Linked DNA regions of Homo sapiens: regions 2 and 3 are each linked to region 1. Evidence: fine-mapped expression QTL. A gene starts in region 1. Each other region holds a variant in brackets. All regions are shown on one strand. Distances are between the middles of the regions. Region 1 holds the start of KRT73 (keratin 73). Region 2 overlaps KRT2 (keratin 2). Region 3 overlaps KRT74 (keratin 74).

Region 1 (8,184 bases):
GAACTTACTTTAGCCATTCTTTTAGGGTAGGCCTGCTGGAAACACATTCTTAGTTTTTCTTCATCTGAGAATGTTTTCATTTTGTCTTCATTCCTGAAGGATATTTTTACTGGGCACTGAATTCTGCATCAACAGTTCTTTGCTTTCAGCACTTGAAAACTATGCCACTCCCTGCTAGCCTCCATAGTTTATGATGAGAAATCTTCTGTCCTTCAAATTGTTTTTTCCCTAAAGGTAAAGCATTGTTTCTCTTTAGCTGCTTTCAGGTTTTTATTTGTAGTTTTCAGAATTCTGACTATAATATGTCTAGGTATGAATTTCTTTGGGTTTATTCTGTTTAGGGTTTGCTCAGCTTCCTGAATCTGTGGGTTTACGTCTTTTGCCAAATTTGGGGAATTTTTATTCCTTATTTCTTTGAGTTATTTTTCAGCAATACTTCTTTTCCTTTCCTTCTGAACCCCAGTGACTTGACTGTTAGATCTTTTGTTAGAGTCTCCCTGATCCTGAGACTTGGTTCATTTTATTCTTCTTCAGTCTGTTGTTCAGTTCTCTTTATTATTCAGATTGGGTAATTTTTATTGTCCTCTCTTCCAGTTCACTGATTCTTTCCTCTGGCCTTTTATTCTCCTGTTACGTGTATCCATTGAGTTTTTTATTTTGATTATTATATTTCTTAGTTCTAAAACTTCCATTTAAAGATCCAGAAGCTGATGGATGTGGGTCTGATCGCAATTCAGTGATGACTTGTTCATCCTCCACTTCCCTTCGCCCTCGTGTGGAAAGAGGAGCTGGGACTGTGGCAGGCAGCAAGGAGCGGAAGGGAGAGAAATGGGATAGAAGGCCTCATTTCTATATATTTATACACAACCCCAGGGAAGGCACAGAGACTTGTACTTGCACTGTTCATGCTGTCACTGCCTCTGGGCCCTCCCAGCACACGTGTGGTCTCTTCACCACTGCCCTCCAGTTCCGTGTCTCCTTCTTCTGCCCCCAGTTGCTGTCTCAGCTGCTCTCCCAGAGTTGGTTATTTTTAGTTTGGGGCAGTAGGCATATATGGGGAGGAGAGGGGGTTCTTCCCAGACTCACATCCCAGATGTTTATTCCATGTCCTCTTCTCCAATAAAACAAGCAAGTTGGGGATGTTTATAAAAAAATAAAAAATAAATAAAACTTTCATTTAGTTCTTCTGGTTTTTAAATTTCTTTGTTGAAACTGTCTAATTTGTCATCTATTTAGCATGTTCTTAGTTGTTCATTTAAGCATGTTTATTGTGGCTGCTTTGAAATCTTTGTCAGATAATTTTAACAACTTTGTCATCTAAGTATTGGCATCTATCAATCGTCTTTTTTTTTCATTCAATTTGAGGACTTCCTTGTTCTTGGCACAATGAGTGATTTTTTAAATAAACATTTGGACATTTTGGTACTATTATGAGATTCTGGATATTGTTTAAATCTTCTGTTTTGGCTGCCTTCTTCTGACATTGTCCTTGCAGGGGAAAGGGTGTGGATGCTACCTTGTTATTGCCAGGTGAGGGTGGAAGTCTGGGCTCCCCACATGGTCTCCACTGGTACCAAGTGGGTCAGGCACTTGTTACCTCCTGGTGGGGATGGAATCCCGGCTTCTTTCTTGGACTTCCCTGATTCCATCTAACTGCTGGGGGAGGGGGCAGTTGGGGCACCTCATTATAGCCTGGTGAGTGTGAAGGTCTAGGCCTCACACTCAGCTTTTGCTGATGTGGGTGTAGGTGAAACCATAGTATTTTCTGTGTGTTGAGATGGAATAGAGTGATTATTCTCTGTAAGTTTTCCATCTTGCTAGGCTGCCCCTTTCCTGATGATGTGGCTACAGAGATCAAGCTTTTGTTTAATCTTTAAAAATCTGAGCCTTTCCAGATTCCTGCCTTCTTCTGCCCCAAGTCTGGAATATAGGAGACAAATAGAAAACCTAGAGAAATAATCATCATGTCTTTCACTGGGTCCTGAGGTCCCTGTTGGTGTGCCTTCTTCTCTACGCTTCAGAGTCTTCTTATGTTTGTGAAGAAGGGAAAAGTATGTCTACTTCATCTTTCTAGTTGTGGAATATCCACATAGGGAATACTGATTTCACAATATTTATTTGATTGCCCCTGGGGGTGACAGAAAGTTGATTTCCTGCCTGTCTCTCTCTCTCTTTCTCTCTCCCCCCCCCCCCCTTTCTTTCTCTCTTTTCTGAAACCATCAGAAACTCTTGCCCTAGTGTCTGGGCAGAGGCTAATGGCAGGACAGCCCCACTGTGGGAAGTGGGGCTGACTTGGTAATTGGGTTCATCTGGCATTGAGTTTCCCCTGGTGAGGGCAATATAAGGGATGTGAAATATAAGGAGCTCACTGTGTGAAAACCCACTTAGAGGCATTTCAATGACAGGTGCTAGGGATACTGTTCTTAGGGAGAATGATTTCAAAGGGCACCTAAGAGTTTTTTAGCCTAGTCCATGACTGCCTGAGAGTCCTTTGCCACTGGAGTTCTGGGAAGTGAGTAGAGAGGACCAAAGGGAGGATAGGACCTGGATCTTGTCCTCAGGAAAATTTCTGGCCGTTAGGAAAGATTGACATACCTCCTGAACACAGGTAGAGACATCAAATTAGAAGAGACAATTGACATAATAGATGCTGTTGTTTGGACAACAAACAACATGTGGGAGGCTGGGAAGAGAGGTGTGATTGGATTAGGAAAGTGATCAGAGAAGGTTTCCGGAAGTGCCTCTGTGGCAGGTTCACAAGATGAGAAGGCCAGGGAGGGGAGGGGAAGTGAAAACCATAAGGAGAGGGGCTGTTTGCTCGTAAGCACATCCACGCCATACTGCAGAGTTGGCATTCACAGCATAAATGCCATTGGGGGTTATCTCAGGGCCTGTGACATGCAGCAATTTGTAGTTTTGCTGAGATGCAGGCCTGAATCACCTCCACCCCAGTGCTGGTGTGCTGAAATGAGCCAATTAGGGAGTGATTCTGGCTGGAATACTAAGCATTCTCATCACAATGCAGTTTTGTTGGTCTTCTTTGTGCCTTACAAAGAAACTTACAAAGGAATAGAAACTTTGGGTCAGGTGCGGTGGCTCACGCCTGTAATCCCAGCACTTCGAGAGACTGAGGCGGGCAGATCACCTGAGGTTGGGAGACCGAGACCAGCCTGACCAATATGGAGAAACCCCATTTCTACTAGAAATACAAAATTAGCCGGGCGTGGTGTTGCATCCCAGCTACTCAGGAGGCTGAGGCAGGAGAATCCCTTGAACCCAGGAAGTGGAGGTTGCGATGAGCCGAGATCATGCTATTGCACTCCAGCCTGGGCAAGAAGAGTGAAACGCCATCTCAAAAAAAAAAAAAAAAAAAAAGAAAAAAAGGAATAGAACTTCATGTTAGCTAAAAAAGATTAAAGGACTTCCAAGTGGCATTGCCTTTAGTGAAATTGAAGACATCAAAGAAAATGATTATTCTTAACTAGAAAACAACCATATTGTATAAAACAGAGGGGAGGTTGAATTTGGCAATTGCTTAGTACAACAATTTTAGAGGCATATCATAACCTCTATACAGAAATAGAAAAGAAGGATGGGCCAACTGTTCATTCAAGTACTCCAGCTAGTGAAATACTTGTGTTTTTATGGAGGAAATTCTATACTATGGATATATTTGGGATTTGGGATTTGGGAAACTCTTGGGTCACATACTTTGGCAATGTCAAGGATCCATGAAATTCAAATGTCTTCCCCTACCTCCCCATCTCCAAAATTGTGAGCTAGGTTTGGTCTTCATAATTCGGGACCCAAGAGCCTAGCACAGTACCTGGGAGAGAGTCAGCCCTCAAGAGAAGTCTGTTAAACGAATGGATAAATGAATGAACAAGTAGATGGCTGGCTGGCTGGTTGGACGGATAGATGGACGAATGAATAAGGCGGGCATAGCTCTGAATGTGGAGTCAGAAGACCAGCCAAGGGAGTCCTCAAGGCTGGGGCCTGTGCTTTTTGGGGGCATTTTCATTCTCTGGGATTCACACAAAGAAAGGACTCACTAAATGTTTGCTAAAGGAATGACATCCTCAATTATCTGAACCTTGGTTTCCCCATTTGTGTAATGTGGATCATCACCATTCCCCTCCATGCAGACTAAGTGGATTAAATGAGCTTCTTGTGTGAGGAGCTCTGTTACACTGTAAAGTGCTGCACCAGTGTCAGCCATCGTGAATGGTGCAATGACCATAATTTCAAGGTCAAGAGTCAGGGTAGTGGGATGGTAAAGGGAAAAAGAAGTCAGTGTGTGCAAAGGAAGGTGAGCAGGGCAGCCCGGCTGGCACAGAGGAGCAGGAGAGCTGCCTGGGAGGGCACAGCAGGGGGCTGGCAGCCAGAGGCTGGTCCTGGATTCCCAGTGTGCTCCTCTCCTATGGCCCTGGCCAGCCATCAAACCTGTCTCCAGGAACTCTGGGAAGCCAGGCAGCAGCAGCCTCTTCTTAACCACATAAAAGCAGCTCAGCCAGGGTCCCTGAAGCAGCCCATCTGATGCTGGCATGGTTGTGAGATTTCTAACAGATGACACTGTCAATTAAAGGTCTCCCCTCTGTACCCCTACAATCCCAGGCCCCACCACTCCCTGGGGAACAGCAATTGAGACTGCGACAAACCTCCCACCTAAGATCTTTCTATGGATAATGTGCCCATGCTAATTACACATGTTCATTAGATAAAACTCAAATTACATGAGCAAGACTTGCAAGACTAGCACTTTGGGAGTTTTCAAGTCATTTACCTGGTGTCTGATTTTGCTGGGAGAAAATGATTTCTTGCTTCCAGGCAAACTGAACCCACAAATTAGGCCCATGGCTCCCTCTTGAGTCCTATAAAGTGGGAGCCCAGGATCACAGGCTGGTGAACTGCATCTCAGCTAAGGGTCAGCATCTTATCCCCACTTTCTGGCCTCCCCACCATGAGCCGCCAATTCACCTACAAGTCGGGAGCTGCTGCCAAGGGGGGCTTCAGCGGCTGCTCCGCTGTGCTCTCAGGGGGCAGCTCATCCTCCTACCGAGCAGGGGGCAAAGGGCTCAGTGGAGGCTTCAGCAGTCGGAGCCTTTACAGCCTGGGGGGTGCCCGGAGCATCTCTTTCAATGTGGCCAGTGGCAGTGGGTGGGCAGGAGGCTATGGATTTGGCCGGGGCCGGGCCAGTGGCTTTGCTGGCAGCATGTTTGGCAGTGTGGCCTTGGGGTCCGTGTGTCCGTCGTTGTGCCCGCCCGGGGGTATCCATCAGGTCACCATCAACAAGAGCCTCCTGGCACCCCTGAACGTGGAGCTGGACCCTGAAATCCAGAAAGTGCGTGCCCAGGAGCGGGAGCAGATCAAGGTGCTGAACAACAAGTTCGCCTCCTTCATTGACAAGGTGGGTCTTTCTGGAGAAAGCTGATCTTGGGCTCCCCTTTTAAGGACTCAGGAGGGAGCCACTGCCCTAATTTGTGGTTCAATTTGCCTGAGAGCAAGAAATCATTTTCTCCCAGCAAAATCAGACACCAGGTAAACAACTTGAAAGCTCCCCAGGTGCTGGGCCCATAAGGCTTGCTCATGCCGTAGAGCCCCTTCCTTCCCCCGCCTTCATTGTCCTTGGGGTGCTCCCTGTCTGAAGCAGACGAAGGCAGGACACCTCCCCAGGATGCAGACATAGCCCAGGGAGGAACTGGACAAAGCCTGGACATCAGAGGCAAGGGACCAGGGTTGGAGGGGTGAGAGGAGCCAGCAGCCTAGCCCAGGAAGGTGTCCAGGAAGCAATGAGAGCGGTCTCTGAGTTGAGAAGTAGCAGAGTGACAGCCTGTGAGACTTAGAAGCTAGGCGAAGGAGATGCCCTTGACAGCCTGGGGCATCTAGACTGCCATGCGACCCAGCTGTTCCTCCTGTGTCCCCTGAAAGCTCAGACTCAGTCCGTAACACACACAGCCTATGAGGCAAGGCAGCTGGAGGTCACGGTGCCCTAGAGCAGTGGTTCTCAAAGGTGGCCCTGGAACCAGCAGCAGCAACGTCACCTGGACGCTTGTTAGAATGCACACTCTCAGGCTCCACCCCAGAGCAACTGAATCAGAGACTCTGCAGCAGGGCCCAGCACCCTGCATTTTAACAAGCTCTCCAGGTGATGCTGATGTACACTCAGGTTTGAGAATCACTGAGGAACAAAGTGGTAGGAAGGTATTGGGAAGCAGAGACTTCCTAAGCTTAGAGGAGCAGGGGAAGCTCACCCGGAGCGACAGTGAGGTAGGGTGGTGAGGCATGAGTAGGAGTTTTCAGATGGAGGTGGGGAAAAGGCAATCTAGGGAGACAGCACGTGCAGCATGGTAGAACTTGTCTGGGGAATGGGAGACCTTCGGTTTACGACATCACTGTATGAGTAAAGAAGGAAGCCAGGAGGGCTGGGCACATTATGAAGAGTGTGATAAGGAATATGGACTTGACCCTGAGGGTGATGTGGAACCACCTGAGGGTTTTAAGCAAGGGAATGATATATTTGTAGGTTGCAACTTGAGAATGCTTGTTCTGCTGCTGGGACAATGCTGTGATTGAGATAGTAGAGATTCAGACATGAAAGCAACTTAGGAGGGCCGGAGACCCCAGATAAGCTGAACATCTGCCTCTGGCTGGGCTGGGAGAGCCCACGCACAAGGAGGGAGAGACTAGGCAGAGCACGGGCCACCAGACCCCGAGCAGAAGGCCTGACAGTGTGAAGGCTAGCACAGGCCAGCTTGTGTCTAAGGGGCTGCCTTGGAGAGGTGGCCTGGACTGAACATGGACATCGGTCCAGGCAGGTTTGGATAAGTGCAGAGGAGACAGGAGATCTAGATCTTGATAGTTTGAGAGGGAAATGAAGACATTGGTGCCCCTCCCAACCTTAAGGGCTGCCTCAGAGTGAGAACTTCAGTCAGATAAAGGACCCTAGGTAAGGAGTGGGGGTGTGAGTGGCATGGGTGGCAGTTTTTAAGGGCTGAGGCTCATTTTTAAAGCTAATGTAGCATAAGAAAACACAGTTCCTGTCCAGGAAGGGAATTCTCACATCCCCTCTCCACATTGCTTAAGTATGTGTGGCATGGGTTCCAGGTGCGGTTCCTGGAGCAGCAGAACCAGGTGCTGGAGACCAAGTGGGAGCTGCTACAGCAGCTGGACCTGAACAACTGCAAGAATAACCTGGAGCCCATCCTTGAGGGCTACATCAGCAACCTGCGGAAGCAGCTGGAGACGCTGTCTGGGGACAGGGTGAGGCTGGACTCGGAGCTGAGGAGCGTGCGCGAAGTGGTGGAGGACTACAAGAAGAGGTGAGCAGGACGCCACTCCAGGCTGGTCTGCCTCCCAGGGTGAGGCTTTCCCAGCAGGCACTGGGATGTTTGCCTCTGGCCTTGGAGGTATTGGGTTCATCTGTCCCAGCAAGATGAGAGCCTTCTATGGGCAACGAGGCAGACTAGACAGTGGACAACCAGCCTCTTGGGCAGCGTCAGGGCTGTCCTGGCAGGTGATCCCCTCCTTGGCATGCTCCTTCCTGCTCCCTGTTCAAGGGAGCCTGTATTGTGTGTGCCGCAGCCTCTTGGCTCCTAAGCTCACCACTGTGCCCCTGAGTTCCAAAGAACCACCCCCCACCCACCCGCTGCTCTCTGCCACAGGGAAGGAGGTGGAGTTCCTGTTGGGCTTCCTCTCTCATTGCCTTTCGGTCCTGGACACGGGCCATGTGCCTTCTTTCTCCCCTGGGAGATAGTTCTGGCTTCCTTGGGACCCCTGCCTAGGGATGGAGGGGAGTTGTTGGTAGGTTGTCAGGCAGCAGGATTGACACAAGAATCATGGCTGAAAGGGGTAGCTGGCATGCTTCTGTGATTCAGATACTGAGTGGGAAGAGGAAGAACCTACTCACTCCCCAGGCATCAGAGGAAATCAGACCTCAAACCACCCAGGCTCAGGAGGAGGTTACTTCATACCCGGCCTCCAACTCTGGCCAAATAGTCCTGGTGTGTTGGGATGGACTTGCAAAGGTATAGAATAATACCTCTTAAAAGGCATATAATATGGGTATCTCTTTTCTCATTTCACTATGAGAACGTATACACACACACACAGACACACACTCTGCTTCCTGTGATGCTTTCCCTGCAGGTATGAAGAAGAAATAAACAAGCGCACAACTGCTGAGAA
Region 2 (8,175 bases), 23 kb before region 1:
TTGTAAGAGGAAGTGGGAAAGTTTTCAGTTGAAGCTGAAGAGGGTGGGAAGAAGAGAGGAATGGGGAGGCTCTACAGAGTCACAGTTCTTTCTGAACTGAATGTTCACAGGCAGCCTCATTGTATAATTTCTGATGTGGCATGGATTCTGAATAACAGACTCTCCAAGATGGATTTAAATACACAAATGGGTTGCAAAGTAGGAAGTGAATTTGCTTTTCAGTGACCTTGGATCAACCACGCAACTGTTCATTTTTTATCAGAGCAAAAATTGAGAGGGATTGACATGCAAGGTTGTGCATAAATGGAAGGGGGTCTGTCGTCATTGTGTGACCTGGCAGCATAGAAGAAAGTGGGGTGTGTAAGCCCTGGTGGCTGCTTAGAGAGGCTAAACTGCACATTTGCGGGTGGAAGTGGTAAAACAACATGCATACAGAACCTAAGTGTTCCACCACAACTTGTTTTTTCTCTCTCCCTTACAGGATGTCTGGAGACCTCAGCAGCAATGTGACTGTGTGTAAGTAATGGGGTGTGGTCCTGTTCCATGGGGTGTTGTGTCAGGTGGAGGCAGGGAGAGGCAGTCATAATCTCTGTGGTAACACCACCTCTCTCTGCAGCTGTGACAAGCAGCACCATTTCATCAAATGTGGCATCCAAGGCTGCCTTTGGAGGTTCTGGAGGTAGAGGGTCCAGTTCCGGAGGAGGATACAGCTCTGGAAGCAGCAGTTATGGCTCTGGAGGCCGACAGTCTGGCTCCAGAGGCGGTAGTGGAGGAGGAGGTTCTATCTCTGGAGGAGGATATGGCTCTGGCGGTGGTTCTGGAGGAAGATACGGATCTGGTGGTGGCTCTAAGGGAGGGTCCATCTCTGGAGGAGGATATGGCTCTGGAGGTGGAAAACACAGCTCTGGAGGTGGCTCTAGAGGAGGCTCCAGCTCTGGAGGAGGATATGGCTCTGGAGGTGGGGGTTCTAGCTCTGTAAAGGGTAGCTCAGGTGAAGCTTTTGGTTCCAGCGTGACCTTCTCTTTTAGATAAAGATGAGCCCCCACCACCACCGACTCTCCCAACCCAGACTCTCCCACTCCAGAATGTAGAAGCCTGTCTCTGTACCTCTAACTGGCAGCAAGTTAAATTTTTGTCATTTATCTCTGATGGCACTTTGAGGGAAAAGAATGTCCACATACAGTTTTTGAAAGATCTTCTCTCCAAACCAGTTAGTTAGAGCCAGTGACGCCTCTGTGTTCTGGGGCGGAATCTGTGCTGTCTAGGTTTGTGCTTCTAGCCATGCCCATTCCCGCCCCCACCATGCCTCTTTGCATTGCCCATTTTCCAGATGTGTATTCTGTTGAGGACCCAGGCCCATCCAGGGATTTCATCTCTAAGCCTGGCAGTGCTGGGGGGAAATGTGTTTCTGTGTATATAGCTCCTCTTGTCCACTCTGCTTTCGGAAGTGCTGTGGTCTGGGGGTCTTCATAATAAACCTCATTTGCAATTCATATCATGTGCTGTCTGCGTGATGTCAAACCTTGGTGGAAGTGGGCAGCCATGGACAAGGGAGGTTTGGGCATTAAGGAGGGGCTCCTGGGTGAGGAGCGTGCCTCCCTGAGGGAAGCCCAGGCGCCAGCCTCTGGATGAATGGGAGCCTGGGGATGGGTGTGTGGTTCTCAGAAAGTATTTACCAGACTTGAGGGCCATGGCATTGCCGGGAGGTGGACAGGTAGATTTGTGGAAGAGTCTCTTTTCTAGAAAAACCCATTCTTCCTGAGCATTTCCCACAGACTGCCCTCTCCCTTTTCCACAAAGGCTTTGGCCCGGGATCACTTCTCCTCAGGGCAAAACCGCTGAGCCCCTGGCACCATCGTGGTGAGTTTCCAAGCTCCGAGCTTCCAAGGCAGACCTTCCTCAGCCTGATGTAGGTCCTGGCCTCTGTCTCTGCGGGGGCTCTGAGCAAGCCTGGAGGAGGATACCTGGGAAGAGTCTGGAGGACTCTAAAGTGGCCTCCAAAACAGCCACTTCTATTTTCACAGGACACCCCTCCTGTCAGCGGAGTCCCACCACACTCAGCAAACAAGCCCTTCTCTCCTCTCTCACCGCAGCCCCCGGGGCCTGTCGCATGGATGTTGCCATCAGGTTGGCCTTCTCCTGTGGGTGTGAAGATGCCTTCAGCCCCTTCCTCAGGAAGGCCATGTCACCTGAGCAGGGCTTCCAGGGAGTTCAGGAATGGTTGGGCAGGTGGGATTGGGCATGCTTGGGGTTGGTGTTAGACAGGCCAGAGTTGCCCAAATGGGAGTTGGTGGCTCAGGCTAGGTCAGCTTAGCTTTCTGTATGTGGCGTTTGGTTATAGTAGCTGTGGCTTAAAGCCACTCAGAACCACTCCTGGAGGGTCCTTTTTTCTCCCACTCCACCCCAGCTTTAAAACCTTGGAGAGTCCTTAGTTGAGTCTGTGACCGTCTTCCTGTTCCCAGAGGTTGCAGGGACGGCTCTAATAGAGAACAGATGCATTCACTTGCCTCCAGACCAGCCAGGACCCAGGTATGAGGGTGCTGCAGGAACAGCTCTGAAGGCTGCAGGTGGCAAGGTGGCAAGACTCCAGGCTGAGCATTCTAAAGTGATCCGCTGATCAGAGAAGGTCCCTGAGAACCACCCAGGCCTCAGTCGTGGGGAGAGGTCTGTGGGGAGAGGGTGCAGGTTGGGAAGAAGTGGTGTGAGGAGCTGGCTGTTTTCGGGTATGTACATAGTGTAGACATGAACACAACCTTTAACAGGGACTTGGTCCCAGACATTTGAGGCTGGACAGGAGCTTTGGTAATCAGTGTATTTGAACTTTTCACTTAGGTGAGGAAAAAGGTAAGGCCCAGGGTGGACACAGAAACCAGGTCTCCCACTCCCAATTTATTCATTTTTTAAAAGGCTTTGGGAATAGCAATCCATTCTAATAACTTTCTGAGGGGAAAAGAGGTGAGGCAGGTAAGGTGGCAGATTTATTCCCAGGGGAGCCTTAATTCTATTTTTTTTTTTTTTGAGATGGAGTCTCACTCTGTTGCCCAGGCTGGAGTGCAGTGGCATGATCTCAGCTCACTGCAAACTCCGCCTCCCGGCTCAAGTGATTCTCATGCCTCAGCCTCCCGAGTAGCTGGGATTACAGACATGCACCACCATGCCTATCTAATTTTTGTATTTTTGGTAGAGACGGCGTTTTACCATGTTGCCCAGGCTGGTCTCGAATTCCTGACCTCAAGTGATCTGCCTGCCTCAGCCTTCCAAAGTGCTGGGATCACAGGCGTGAGCCACTGCACCCGGCCTTAATTCTTGAGACTTTCAGTGGTCTGAACCTCTAGCTCCTTCTATCGTTTCCAGTTCCCCATCCCTTCCCCACCTGAGACACAGCCCTTCTGGTTTCCAGATCATATATATGCTACTTTCTTGCTGGACTCCAGTAGTAAAATTAGCCTTGTACATTAACTCAGAGGGACCCAGGCCTGAGGCGTGACAGAAATCAAGCTCTAAGCAGGTATTGGAGAGAGGGGCTACCTCTGGAGAGGGACCCTCCTTTCCCTCCGAAGTGTAGAGTAGCCCAGAATCTGGGCCACACCCTCCCACCAGGGCCCTCTGCTGCTCCTCCACCAAATTTGGTAATTGACTTGTCAGGTCCTGGGCTTCAAAAAGGAGACAGGCACAGGCAGAAGGGTTTTACGAGCTCGATTTCCATAGGGAACTGGGTTAAACATTTCCGTTCTGATGATGTTG[C/T]AGAATATTTGGGACATCCTCCCTCTTGTGGTTCCCTCCCTTTCTCTGCCTGTGAGTTTTAGTATGAATTCAAATAAACCCTTTTTCTCTTCCTCACCAAATTCTTTCTTTCCTGTCATTTGAAAGGAAATTCCTTTGGACATTTCACCTCCTTCAGGACAGCTCACCTCCTCCAGGAAGCCCACCTAAATGGAACACTCCTGCCTCCTTTTCTTGCTGTGAAGTGGGGAAGGAGTGCCCTGGGAGTGAGGAGACTTCAATGCTGATCCTCATCTTTGTGGGAACTGTTGCGTGACACTGGGCAAGTCCTTTCTCCTCTCTTGGCTCAATTTCTGCCTCACTTTAAGGACTTTCAGTGGCCAAGATTGTTTCTACAGATCCTTCCAGCTCTGATGAAAAGAACCCTGTCTGTGCTACCGGGTCAGCCAGTGCTTACTCCTAAAGCCTTTCAGCCCAACAGGGGATTTGGGACACTGTCAGGATATCCAGAGAGACCCTTTGTGAATAGGTGTGAGCATGTGAAGCTCAAAGTGGTTTTCATTCTAGTTCAGTAAATGCCTGTTGGACAATGACTGTGGGCAAGGTTGTGCATGTGGCTACGTGGGCGTATCAAGACTTATAAGACAGTGCGTCCTGTCAGGGATTTATGGTCTAGTAGGGGAAGAATGAGAAATTTGCAAACAGCTATTAACATAAGGCAGAATGTAGTAGTGTGCATTAATTTCATTAAGCGGCCCTTACTAAAAATACATATTCTTTGTTCCAGCATCCCCTCCTTCTCCCTGAGTTTCCACTACAGAGGAGTCTAGAAATCTGCATTTTTAACAACCTCCTAGGTGATTCTGATGCTGGTGACACAAGGGCCATGGTTTGGAAAGCACTGATGGACATGCTAAGGGAGCGGGCTCTGGGGTGGGCTCAGTTGCTGGCACCTTGGAATTTAGTAGGCACTAAATGAAAAGTTGATGATCAGATAAAAGAATGTGTGACCCTGGGCAAGTTATTTAACAACTCTGAGCCTTTCTTTACTCATTTGTAAACAGGTAGCAACAACAGCTTCCTCAGAGGATTGCTGGAGGTTTACACACTGAAATCAATGATAAATGTTTATTCTGTAGGACCTGTGCCATCATAAGCATGCAGTACTGTAGGTTACATTATTATTATTATTGTAAGTTACAGGCAGTATTTTGGGACCGGAGAAGACCTCATGGATGAGATAACTTTATATCCAGGCACTGGCAGATAGGTGGGATTAATTAAAGAGTAATAACAATTCTGCACGAACTGTTTCAGAAGATGGAAGAAGAAACACCTTCCATCTTGTTTTATAAGGCCAGCATTAATGGAAGAAACTAAAGAACAAATCCCTCATGGATATATATATATATATATATATATATATATATATATATATTCAAAAATTATCAGCAAGATATGAGCAAATTCAATCTAGAAAGATATAAAAAGGATAATACATCATGACCATGTGTTTAAAAATATTGTTTAAAAATAGTGAGGTATATGTTTAAAATGTATCCCAGAAATAAAAAGCTTGCTCAACATTCAAAGAATTAATGTATTCACCATATTGACATAGAAGAAAAAAACATAAGACTGTATCAATAGATACAAAACATTTGACAAAATTCAACACCCTCCATGGTAAAAACAAACAAACAAACAAAAACAACAACAACAACAACAGATTCTTAAACTAGGAGTAGAAGGGAACTTCGTTAGCCTGATAAAGGGCATCTGTAAAAACCCATGGCTAACATACTTAATGGTGAAAGTCAATGCTTTTCCCACAAGCATTTCTTGGGAACAAGCAAGCGTATTTGCTGTCACTACTCCTATTCAGCATCGTACTGGGATTCCTAAATAGTGCAATAATGCAAGAAAAATAAATAAAATCCTACAGATAGGAAGAAAGAAATAAAACTGATTTATTAATATATGATGTGATTGCATATGTAGAAAATCCAAAGGTATCTTATTAGTCAACATATTTCTGTATTGAGAAAATCTTGATTTATACAGATAGATGGGTGTAAATGGTAATGATATTTGTAACTAATTAGACTTGAAATTTCTGATTACTTTCCATTGAAAGATAGATGGCAGGGGAAGCTGTAGTTCAAAGTGCAGAACGCTGAGTTAATCTAATGCATTGTTGAACTCCAGTAAATTAAAATTTACTACAGATCACATTCGAATGTGCATGCTGTTTATTTTAAAGTCAACTTTAATGAGGATTCACTTATAAATAAGAAAATGCATTGTATTACATTTTAAGCATATACCTCAATATTTTTAAACAAATGTATACATCCTTATAACCTCTATCACAATACTTATATAGAAGATTTCCACTACTCCAATGAGTTACCCTATGCCCCCAGCCAACTTTTGATCTCCTTGTCGATACCACTGACTGGTTTTGCCTATTCTAGGATTTCTTAGGGTTGATGTACCTCCTCTCCAACACTGGGCATTGCCAGTCTTTTTCATTCTACAGGGTGTGCATGTTATCTCTTTGTAGTTTTAATGGCATTTTCCTGATGACTTGTGATGTGCAGTGTCTTTTTTTGGTTCTTATTGGGCGTTTGTACATGTTTTAGGAAAGGTCTGTCCAAATCTTGTGAAAGTTTTTATTGGGCAGTTTGACATACATAGTTGCAGGAGTTCTTTATATACTCTGGATAACAGTCATTTGTCAGGTATATGTATTGTCAATATTTTCACTCAGTGTGTGGATTTTCTTGTCATTTTCTTAATGGCATCTTACAAGCAGCAGAATTTTCTAATATTGATTAATTCTAATTTATCAAATTTTCTTTATAGTTTGGACTTTTGGTGTCTTAAGAAATCTTTGCTTACCTAATGGTCACAAACATTTTCTCCTACAATACAAACTTTTATCCTAGAAGTTTTATAATTCTAGTGTTTACATTGTCTATACCCCATTTTAAGTGGCCATTGGGGTATGGTCTAAGGTAAGGGTCCAAGTTCATTTTATTCCCCCAAGTAAATATCCAGTTGTTTGGGCACCAGTTGTTCAAAAGACTATTGTTTACTTGTTGAACTACCTTGGCAACTTTGTCAAATATCAATGGAGACATATGTGTGGGTCTGTTTTTGGATTCTTTATTCTGTTGATTAATGTATCTGTGAAACACTTCTAACATACAGTATTGATATGGTGGCTTGAATCAGTCTTGAAATAAGCTAGTATAATACCTCTGATTTTCTTATTCTTTTAAAAAATTATATGGGATTGAATTTTTGAATTTGAGTATAAAGTTTAGTATCAGCTTGTAAGTTTCTATCAGGAAATACTGCTGGGTTTTAATTGAAATGATGTTGAATCAATAGGTCAGTTTGGGGAGAATTGGCATTTTAAGTATCTTGAGTCTTTCAGTCTATGAACATAGTACCTCTCTCCATTGCTTTAGGTCTTCTTTAATTTTTCTCATCAGTGTGTCACAGTTTTCAGCGTACAGGTCTTACATATGTTTTGTTAAATTTATCTCTAAGTATTTCATGTTTTCATGCTATTACAAGTGGTATTTAAAAATTTTAATTTGTTATTTGCTCCTTGCTCATATATGGAAGCACAGTTTTAAAAACTGGCCTTGTTTCTTGTGAGCATGCTAAATTCATTTGTCACTTCTACTAGTTATTTTGTAGATTCCTTAGGATTCTGTATGTACATAATTATGTTGTCTATGAATAAAGATGATTTTGACTTCTCCTCTCCAAACTGTTTGCTATTGTTTATTTCCCCTCATTGGTCTGGCTAGGATCTTCAGAGCAATATTGAATGGGGGCAGCAAGAGTTGCCATCCTTCCCTTTTCCCTAATCTTGGAGGGAAACGTTTATTTTTCTTCACCATTGTCTATAATATTAAATGTAAGCATTTTTAAAATTTGTTTGTTTGGTTAGATGGGCAAGTTCAGGAAGTTTCCCTATACTCCCAGTGTACTGGGTGTTTTTATCTTGAGTGAACATTGATTTTTTTCAAATACTTTTCAACATTCAGATGATCATATAACTTTTCTCCCTCATTCTGTTAATATAGTGAATTTCATTGATTAATTTTCAAATGTTAAATTAATCTTGTATTCCTGGAATAAACTCCATTTGGTCATGCTATATTATTATTATTATTATTATTATTTATTTATTTTTTTTGAGATGAAGTCTTGCTCTGTTGTCATGCTGGAGTACAGTGGCACAATCTTGGCTCACTGCAACCTCCGCCTCCCAGGTTCAAGTGATTCTCTTACTTCAGCTTCTTGAGTAACTGGGACTACAGGCATGTGCCACCATGCCCAGCTAATTTTTGTATTTTTATTAGAGAAGAGGTTTCATCATATTGGCCAGGATGGTCTCGATCTCTTGATTTCGTGATCTGTCTGCCTCGG
Region 3 (8,184 bases), 58 kb after region 1:
GAGCTGGCTTTTCTGTCGCTGAGTGCTACTGCCTAGTCCAGATGTCGTGGCTCAGGGTGTAAATATTCCTAAGAATGGCAGCATCTATTTCCTCTTTTGTTTGAATTAAAGACTCTGAATTTCTGCTGTATATTCATTAAGTTGTCCTTGAGTGTTGTCAGAGGTATGCTTCTGTCAGTCTGTTAATCTTTCCAAATGTTCCACCCTCTAGTGATGATGTGCCACCCTCCATTTCTCCCCAGCAAGCGTGCAGGACTCTTGCTGGGAAGCTGCAGGCCAACTCAGATGAGGCTGCTCTGGAGGCAATCTCAGGCTGCTGGAAGAGACAGATACACACTCATGTAAATCAGGGAAGGGCAGCCTAAGGCAGCAATGCTAGTAAGGGACTGGAATAGAGAGGCTAAGCAAGGAAGGCTTCCTGGAAGAGGAGGAGAGTTTAATTAAATAACCAGAAAGATGGACACATGGGCTCCTGGAGAGGGAATTTAAATCACAGCAACATAGTAGTTTGGACACAGGCTTTCATGTGCTTATTTAGTAGGGGGTGGGAGATCTCAGATTTTCCAAAGTCAATACAGATTGGGTATACCTTATCCAAAATTCTTGGGACCAGAAACATTCCTGACTTTGGATTTTGAAATGTTTGCATGTGCATAATGAGATACTTCGGGGATGGAACCCAAATCAAAACATGAACTTCATTTATGTTTCATATATACCTTCTGCGTAGGCTAAAGATAATTTTGTACAAATTTTAAATAAAATGCTCCAAAAGTTTTGGAGCACTTTGGATTTCAGACTTTTGGATTAGAGATGCTTAATCTGCAGTGGGGCTGGGTGGATTTCTAAGTCCCTCAGCTGTGGCCGGCAGAGTCTAGCTGTCTAAGCAGCTTTCAAATTTGTCTTGTGTCATGGGTGTGCCCAAAGATGTTCACCTCTACAGGCCTCAAGATAATGGGGACAGGCCTTGGGAGGATGGGGACTCTGGCCTAAGTAGTGGCCTCCATTCACCTCCCTGTGGCTTTCATGTATTAAGGAGGTCCTCTTCTGTGTGTGCCAGGGTGCAGTAAACCGTGGGAAACACAAGAGCCCAAGAGTGTGTTGGGCTTTCTGCCCAAATGTCTCCCTCTGATGTCACCACTGCTGCCACTGTGGATACTGAACTAGTGCCCTGGGAGTGGGAGGCTCCATTCTAGCTCTACCACTAACCAGTCACCTGTTACACACAGTGGTTCTTAACCTTGTAAGTCATGAACATTTTGAGAGCTGATGAAAGCCATGGATCTTTCCCCTGAAATGTGGACAGGGTCTACTGCATGTCCAGAGGTTCACAGATCCCCACAGCCCATCCATGGATTCCCTGGGTCATGAACCACCGGTTAAGAGCCTTTGCACCAGATACCCTTAAGGCCCTTCCTAGCATTGATGCTCTGTCTTTCCCAAAAGACCACATTCCCAGTGAGGGACCCAGTAAGAGGGCCTGAGGTGAGAGAGGGAATGAGACCCACAACCTGAAATAGCATTTGGAGAAGTATTAATACATGAGCCTCCGTGAAATCACTTCTTTCAAGGCTGCTGTGCAGCATGCCCCTGACAACTGGGCACACCTGAGCTGGTGCTGTTGGGCTGTGATGGCTGCACGCAAACGTGGCTCTGGATGCAGGGATGAAGGGCTAAGCAGATGTGATACAGTGTGTCCTCTACTAGAGTGCTGAGGTGGGCAGAAGGAGCAGCCTCTCTGGCTGCAGCTTATCCACCTGAGAAATGGAGAGATTCTCTGCCATCTGGGATTATGAAGATGCTGAGAGGTGCACAGGAGTGACTGTGCTCTTGCTTTTGGACTCAGAGTCCCCTGAAGCCCAAGAGGAGAAATCATGAAGGCAGGACCAGAGGTGATTGTTAATTTCAATTATTTACAGTTATGGCCATTTTGACACGGGTACCAAGACCATTCAATAAGGGAAAGAATAGCTTCTTCAACAAATGGTGCTGAGACAGCGAGGTATCCACATGCCAGAGAATGAGGTTGAATCTCTATTTTACATCATATACAAAAATTAATCAAAATGAATCAACAACCTAAATATAAGAGCTAAAACCATAAAACTCTTAGAAAAAATGTAGAGGGAAATCTTTGTGACCTTGATTTGGCAATGAATTCTTAGATATGACATCAAAAGCATAAGCAACACAAGAGAAACTAGATAAATTGGACTTCCTCAAAGTTAAAAAACTTCTTTACAGTAAGGGACATTATCAAGAAAGTGAAAAGACAACCTGCCAAATGAAAGAAAATATTGGAAAATCATAGAGCTGATAAGGGTCTAGTATCCAGAATATATAAAGTACTCTTGCAACTCAACAATAAAAAAAACAAACAACTCAGTTAAAAAATGAGCAAGTAATTTTAATAAACTTTCTTTAGAAGATACACAATGGCCAAGAAGCACAGGAAAAGATGCTCAACATAATTATTCATCAGGGAAATGTAAACCAAAATCATAACTAGGCACCAGTTTATACTCACTAGGATGATTTATAATAAAAATAACAGAAAATAATGAATGTGGTGAGATTATGGAGAAATTTGAACATTCATACATTACTGTTGGAAATGTAAACTGGTTCAGCCACTGTGGAAAAGTTTGGCAATTCCTCAAGGAGTTAAACAGATTTGCCATATGACCCAGCAATTCCACTCCTAGATAGAAAGCCAAAATAATTGAAAACATGGCTGAGCCCAGTGGCTCATCCCTGTAATCCCAGCACTTTTGGAGGCAAAGGCTGGGGGGCGGCTTGAACCCAGGAGTTTGAGACCAACCTGGGCAAGGGAGGTTGTCCTTGGGCAACCCAGGGCAAGGGAGATAGGGAGACCCTGTCTCTTAAAGAAAAAAAAAGCTAGGTATGGTGATGCATGCCTGTGGTGCCAGCTACTTGGGAGGCTGAGCTGGGAGGACCACTTGGGCCCGGGAGTTCAAGGCTGCAGTGAGCAGTGATTGTGCCACTGCACTTCAGCCTGGGTGGCAGAACAAGACCCTGTCTCATTAAAAAAAAAAAAAAATTAAAACCAGGTTTCTCAAACAAACACATGTACATGCATATTCACAGCAGCACTATTCACCATAGCCAAAGGTGGAAACAGCTCAAATGTCCATCAATGAATGAAAAAAAAAAAAAACAAAAAAAACTGTGGTATATACTTTCAGTGGAATATCATTCAGCCATAAAAAGGAATGACTCAGTGATATGTGCTACAATGTGGATGAATCTCAAAAACATTATGCTAAGAGAAAGAAGCCAAACAAAAAAAGCCACACATTATATAATTTCATTTATATGAAAGGTCTAGAATAGGTAAATTCATACAGATGGAAAGCAAATTGGTGGTTGCAGGAGTTGGGGAAGGGGAAATGGGGGTGACTGCTAGTAGGCACAGGGCTTTCTTTCGGGGTAATGACAATGTTTTAGAACTAGATTGAGGTTATGGTTGCACAACATTGTGAACATACTAAATGCCACTGAATTGTTCACTTTAAATAGTTAATTTTATGTTATGTGAATCTTACCCCAATAAAAAATAAAATAAAATTTGGGAGTGCAGCAGGGAAAAGGTCAGAGAAACTGTATCCCTGGACTTTGCTCTCTGCCTTCCCTACCGTGTGGCAAATAGCAACCTGGCATAAAGACAGAGTTGTCCATGACCAGCAGGGGGACAGACACTACTTACCCTCATTTGACTGGCCAAGGCAAGCCTGGGGGAGCTGGACTTCTGATAGCCAAGAGCTGACCATGTCTCTGACACTTGGCCGCTACACCCAGCTGAGGGCAACCACTGGCTCTCTCTCGGCTAATTAAGTGCTTGCTTAACTAACCACCTGAGTCTCAGACTTTGGTTATGAAGAGCAACTCAGTGCCCTCAAGTGGCTCTCATAGCTCTTGCTGATGCCTGTTGAGTTGAAGCATCTGAGGCCAAAA[A/C]ACTGCAATATTTCTTTTTCTCTGTCAGGGTCATGGCCTCTGCACAGTGACTTGGATTAAGATTTTAAGTGGACACCCAAAATCTTGCTTAAGTTCCCAAACTCACTGTATCTTGGTTCATTAGTTGAAGTGAGCACAAAACCCAATTGCTACTGGAATCTTCTCTCCACCTGGGATTTAATGAAACCTACAAGGCTCTGCAATGGCAGACCTATCTGCTGGACTGAGAAGTCCTCAAAGGCAGGCTGGTGTCTTCCTCTATCCCTGTATGTGGTAAACGCTTGGCACAGAGAGGCTGCTTAGTAAGTGTCAAATGGGATCACTGAATGCAAAAGAACAAGGCAATCAGTGTCTGTGCACTGTGTCCTGGGACCTCATCCACCCTTTCCTGCAGCTTCTTCCTATGCCTCTCCCTCTGCCTCTGACCTTCCCATTTTCTGATTTTTCTAACCATTCTCTCTAGGTTCCAAACTCAGTGTAGCAGGAGGCTTTAACTGAGTAATCTGTGTTCATTGGTAGAGAAAGTCTCATTGAAATCCATCCTCTGTGACCTTGAAAAGTCACCTTGGCCATCCTCCTGCCCTGGGGAAGGGATGTTCTTTCAGGTCTAAACTGTCATGACTTCTCCTGCTTTCATGGTCTCAGAGCTGTTGAATGAATGAATGAATGAATTTGATTCCCTCACTTGGTCACCAGCTGGGAGTCACTGCATTGCTCCCTCCCGTCATGGCTATTATTGAAAAAGAATATATTGAAAATATATGAAAAAGGGACAATCAGCTCCCTGTTAGAAACCACTAATGGAGAATAATGGAGACTCAGGGGTCTGAAAGCAACAGCTAATAGAAGATGGGAGCAATTATCAGGTGCAATGTCATCAGAAACCCATGTACGCATGCATAGACATGAGGCTGCAGGCTCACAAAGCTGATGTCTATGGAAGATGCAAAACATTTAACAGCTGGTACAAGCAGGCACTAACCAATCAGAGATGTCAGCCATGGACAACCAGGACAGCCATGTTCATAATGGCTGGACACCTGTTCTGCTCCCAGCCATTCACATACAGATGTGCACACACATCTTCTGATATGCCTTGGAACATGTCTGTCAGCTGGTAAGACATGCAGTGCTCACAGTTCATGCATTAAGCCCTGGAGCCTTTGGTCATTTTGGGGTGGAGGGATGCGCCCAGAACCTGAGCAGCAGGAGAAAGCTGCAGCCTGACCCTGACAGGGAAGGGGTGGAAACCAGGGGAATTCGGAAGGGCTTAGGGGAGGCTTCTTGGAGTAGCTATGTCCTGCCTGGTAGGCAGGAGGCTGGGAGAATAGCCCAGAGCATGACATCAGGAAAAAGGAAGCTGCCCGTAAGAAACATGTCAGGGCCTCACAAGCATCCCCAACCCCATCCTCACCCAGGTCCTGAAATCACATCTATTTTCTCCAAAAGAGCAAAGAAGGCTGAAAAGGGGACTGAGGGGTCAGATGTGGCTGGCTGGAGGGTTGTGACAGGAAGACAGGAGTGTATGAAATGTCAATCCTGGAAACCAGAGGCTTATAGGGTGGGCTGGCAGGAGGACCACCCAAGAGGCTGCTGCCAGAATTCCAGAGGGGAGAGGATGAGGGGCAGCCTGGGCCATGCCGTGGTGATAGATGCAGAGCAACTGCCTTAAGAGATGGCAGGTGACTTCTTGAGAGTGCGGAGCACCTGGGTGAGTGAGGGCGTGGGCACTGATGGGGTGGGAGGGTATATTAGGGACAGAAAGTGATGAGCTCAGCTTTTCACACTGTGGTTCAAGTGTTGGAGGGACAGGAGAGAGCAGAGACCAGAGCTGGTGAGGGTTAGAGGTGGGCATGCTCACCTGGGAATAGGACACGCAGGGGCACTAGACATTTGTACTCAAGAAAGCCAGGGTGGTGTGGAGGCTAAGGGCACAGACTATAGCCAGCATGCCTGTATTTGAACCTTGGCTCAAATCCTGGTTGAGTGCTGAGCTTGGTGGTTCACACTTGTAATCCCAGCACTTTGGGAGGCCAAGGTGGGTGGATCACTTGAGGTCAGGAGTTTGAGACCAGCCTGGCCAACGTGGTGAAACCCTGTCTCTTCTAAAAGTACAAAAATTAGCCCGGTGTGGTGGCCCACACCTGTAATCCCAGCTACTCGGGAGGCTGAGGCAGGAGAATTGCTTGAACCTTGGAGGCAGAGGTTGCAGTGAACTGAGATCGTGCCACTGCACTCCAGCCTGGGTGACAGAGTGAGACTCCATCTCAAAAAAAAAAATCCTGGTTGAGTACTCTCTTGAGTAAGCTGCCTAACTTCCTGTGTCTCAGCATCTTCATCTGTAAAGTGGGGACAATAATGGCACCTACCTCATAGGGCTGTTGTGAGAATTAAATGAATTAATATATGTGAAGCGCTTAGAAGGATGCCTCACAGCACTCACATTGTATATGTGTTAACCACTGCTATTATTATCATTGTCACCATTATTCTTATTTACAAGGTGCCTCCCAACCACCTTGGGGAGTAGGTGGAGCAGGTGTTGGCACCCCCTCTTTTAGAGATGTGAAAACAGAGGCTTAGGAAGGTAAGAGACCTGCCCACAGTCACACGGCTCATGAGTGGCCAAGGCAAGACTGGGACCTGGGTCCTCAGAGTCTCAAGTCCATGCACTTCGCTAGAGGCTTGGCGTGGGGCTGCAGCATGGCTCAAAGGAGGTGCTCCCAGCCACGGAGCTGAGTGAGGAGGAAATGAGGAGAGGGGCAGCCCCAGATGACCCTCTCTGTCAGAAATATGGCAAAATGGGAGGGGAGCCATGCCTGGAAGGACAGCCTTCCTATCCTTTATATCCCAGCTCCTCTGGGGTGGGCACACCCTCAGCCTTGGCAGCTGCAAAAATGCTGACCAGCTGTCCTGCCCCCCAATGAATGGTGGGTTGTGGCCAGGCCCCCGGCACTGCGCTCCATCCGGCTGGCTGGGGCTGAAAACCCTGCCTATCTGAAACCACTGAAAGATGAGGGGGTGCCAGGAGGGGGGCTTCTGGGGGATCCATAGATGACATGCTCATTTCCTGGGTTCATCTGCTGAGGAGGGCTGGCAGGACCTGGGCTGATGTCATCCAAATAGCTCAGCTCATTCTCTCTAATTCTGGAGACAATTATTTGCTCAGAGAACCACCTGCCCCTCTCTCGGTGCCTCCAGCCTCTCTCCACCCCCACCAACCCTGTCCACATAGCACCTGGATTCTGCTGCCTCAAACATGGATTGCTCATGCCCTCCCTGGCTCAGTAGCCCTCAATGGCTCCCCATTATGTGCACAGCCTGGCATCCAGAGTCCCCCCCCCGCAAAGTCGTCCTTTATTCATGATTGCTCCAGCCTGGTGGGTCTTTTCCTCACAAATGACCTGCCTTCTGCCACCCAGGGCAGTTTTCCTCATTCCTCCATGCCTGTCCATCCAAGCCTTCTTCCCTTAAGAGACTGGGATCCAAACTCCATCCTCCAGGCAGCCCTTGTAGGTTTAGTGTCCCCACATCTATGCATTCCCCTTTCCTCTCACCCAGCAACTACCCTCTTATATTGTACTCGGTTGTCTTGCCCTGCTCTTGGAGGTCTTCTCTCTCCAGACTTATCCGACCCAAGAGTGCTGAGAGGAAAGAGCAAGATACAAATTAGAGCCATGGGTTCACACACAAATGTGTCAAACTGGTCATGATCACAGACACAGAAACAACAATACAAAGACACTTACAAATTATACATGTAAGCCAAATAAAACATGTGGCTATAAAACCAAGAGCCACACAAATGTAATGTAACATGCCATTTAATTTTTTTCTTGAATGTCCAAGCCAGATGTTCCTGGTATCTTAGGGGTTTGATCCTCTGATATGACGCATTCCCCCGACTGTTTCACAGATGGGTATAACTGGCCCAGAGATGTCCACGCCTGCCCAAACATTGCTCAGAATTCAATTCTCATGTGGAAAGCTAGACCCCTCCCATGGAGGGCATGAAAGAAAAACAGAGCCAGACGGGCAGCTCAGATCCTGCCTCCCCACCAGGCCAGAGGGCTCCCCAAGCAGGGGTGCTGGCTCCTCCCACCCCTAAATCTTCCCAGATCTCAGTTAAAGCGGGACTGGGGGGATTGGGGGTTTAGTCCCCCTAGTGAGCTGTGGCCCTGTCCTGGTTTCCTTCAGTCTCTCCTTTTT

Evidence for each region.
Region 2: its variant is fine-mapped to the expression of KRT73 in unexposed skin (GTEx, PIP above 0.99).
Region 3: its variant is fine-mapped to the expression of KRT73 in whole blood (TOPMed, PIP above 0.99).

What each region holds. Positions count from the first base shown.
Region 1 is chr12:52,615,301-52,623,484 of GRCh38, reverse strand. It overlaps KRT73 (keratin 73), which reads left to right and starts at 4,926. Exons shown (of 9, transcript NM_175068.3): 1 at 4,926-5,407; 2 at 7,105-7,319; 3 at 8,146-8,184. The coding sequence starts at 4,961. It overlaps KRT73-AS1 (KRT73 antisense RNA 1), which reads right to left. Exons shown (of 3, transcript NR_126005.1): 3 at 8,180-8,184.
Region 2 is chr12:52,637,876-52,646,050 of GRCh38, reverse strand. KRT2 (keratin 2) reads left to right here. Exons shown (of 9, transcript NM_000423.3): 8 at 482-516; 9 at 617-1,493. The coding sequence ends at 1,032. Among named protein-coding and RNA genes, the nearest start is that of KRT2, 10 kb to the left of the region's middle. The variant C/T (reference allele first, on the strand shown) is at 3,745.
Region 3 is chr12:52,557,763-52,565,946 of GRCh38, reverse strand. It overlaps KRT74 (keratin 74), which reads left to right. Exons shown (of 9, transcript NM_175053.4): 9 at 1-165. Among named protein-coding and RNA genes, the nearest start is that of KRT71, 8.7 kb to the right of the region's middle. The variant A/C (reference allele first, on the strand shown) is at 3,976.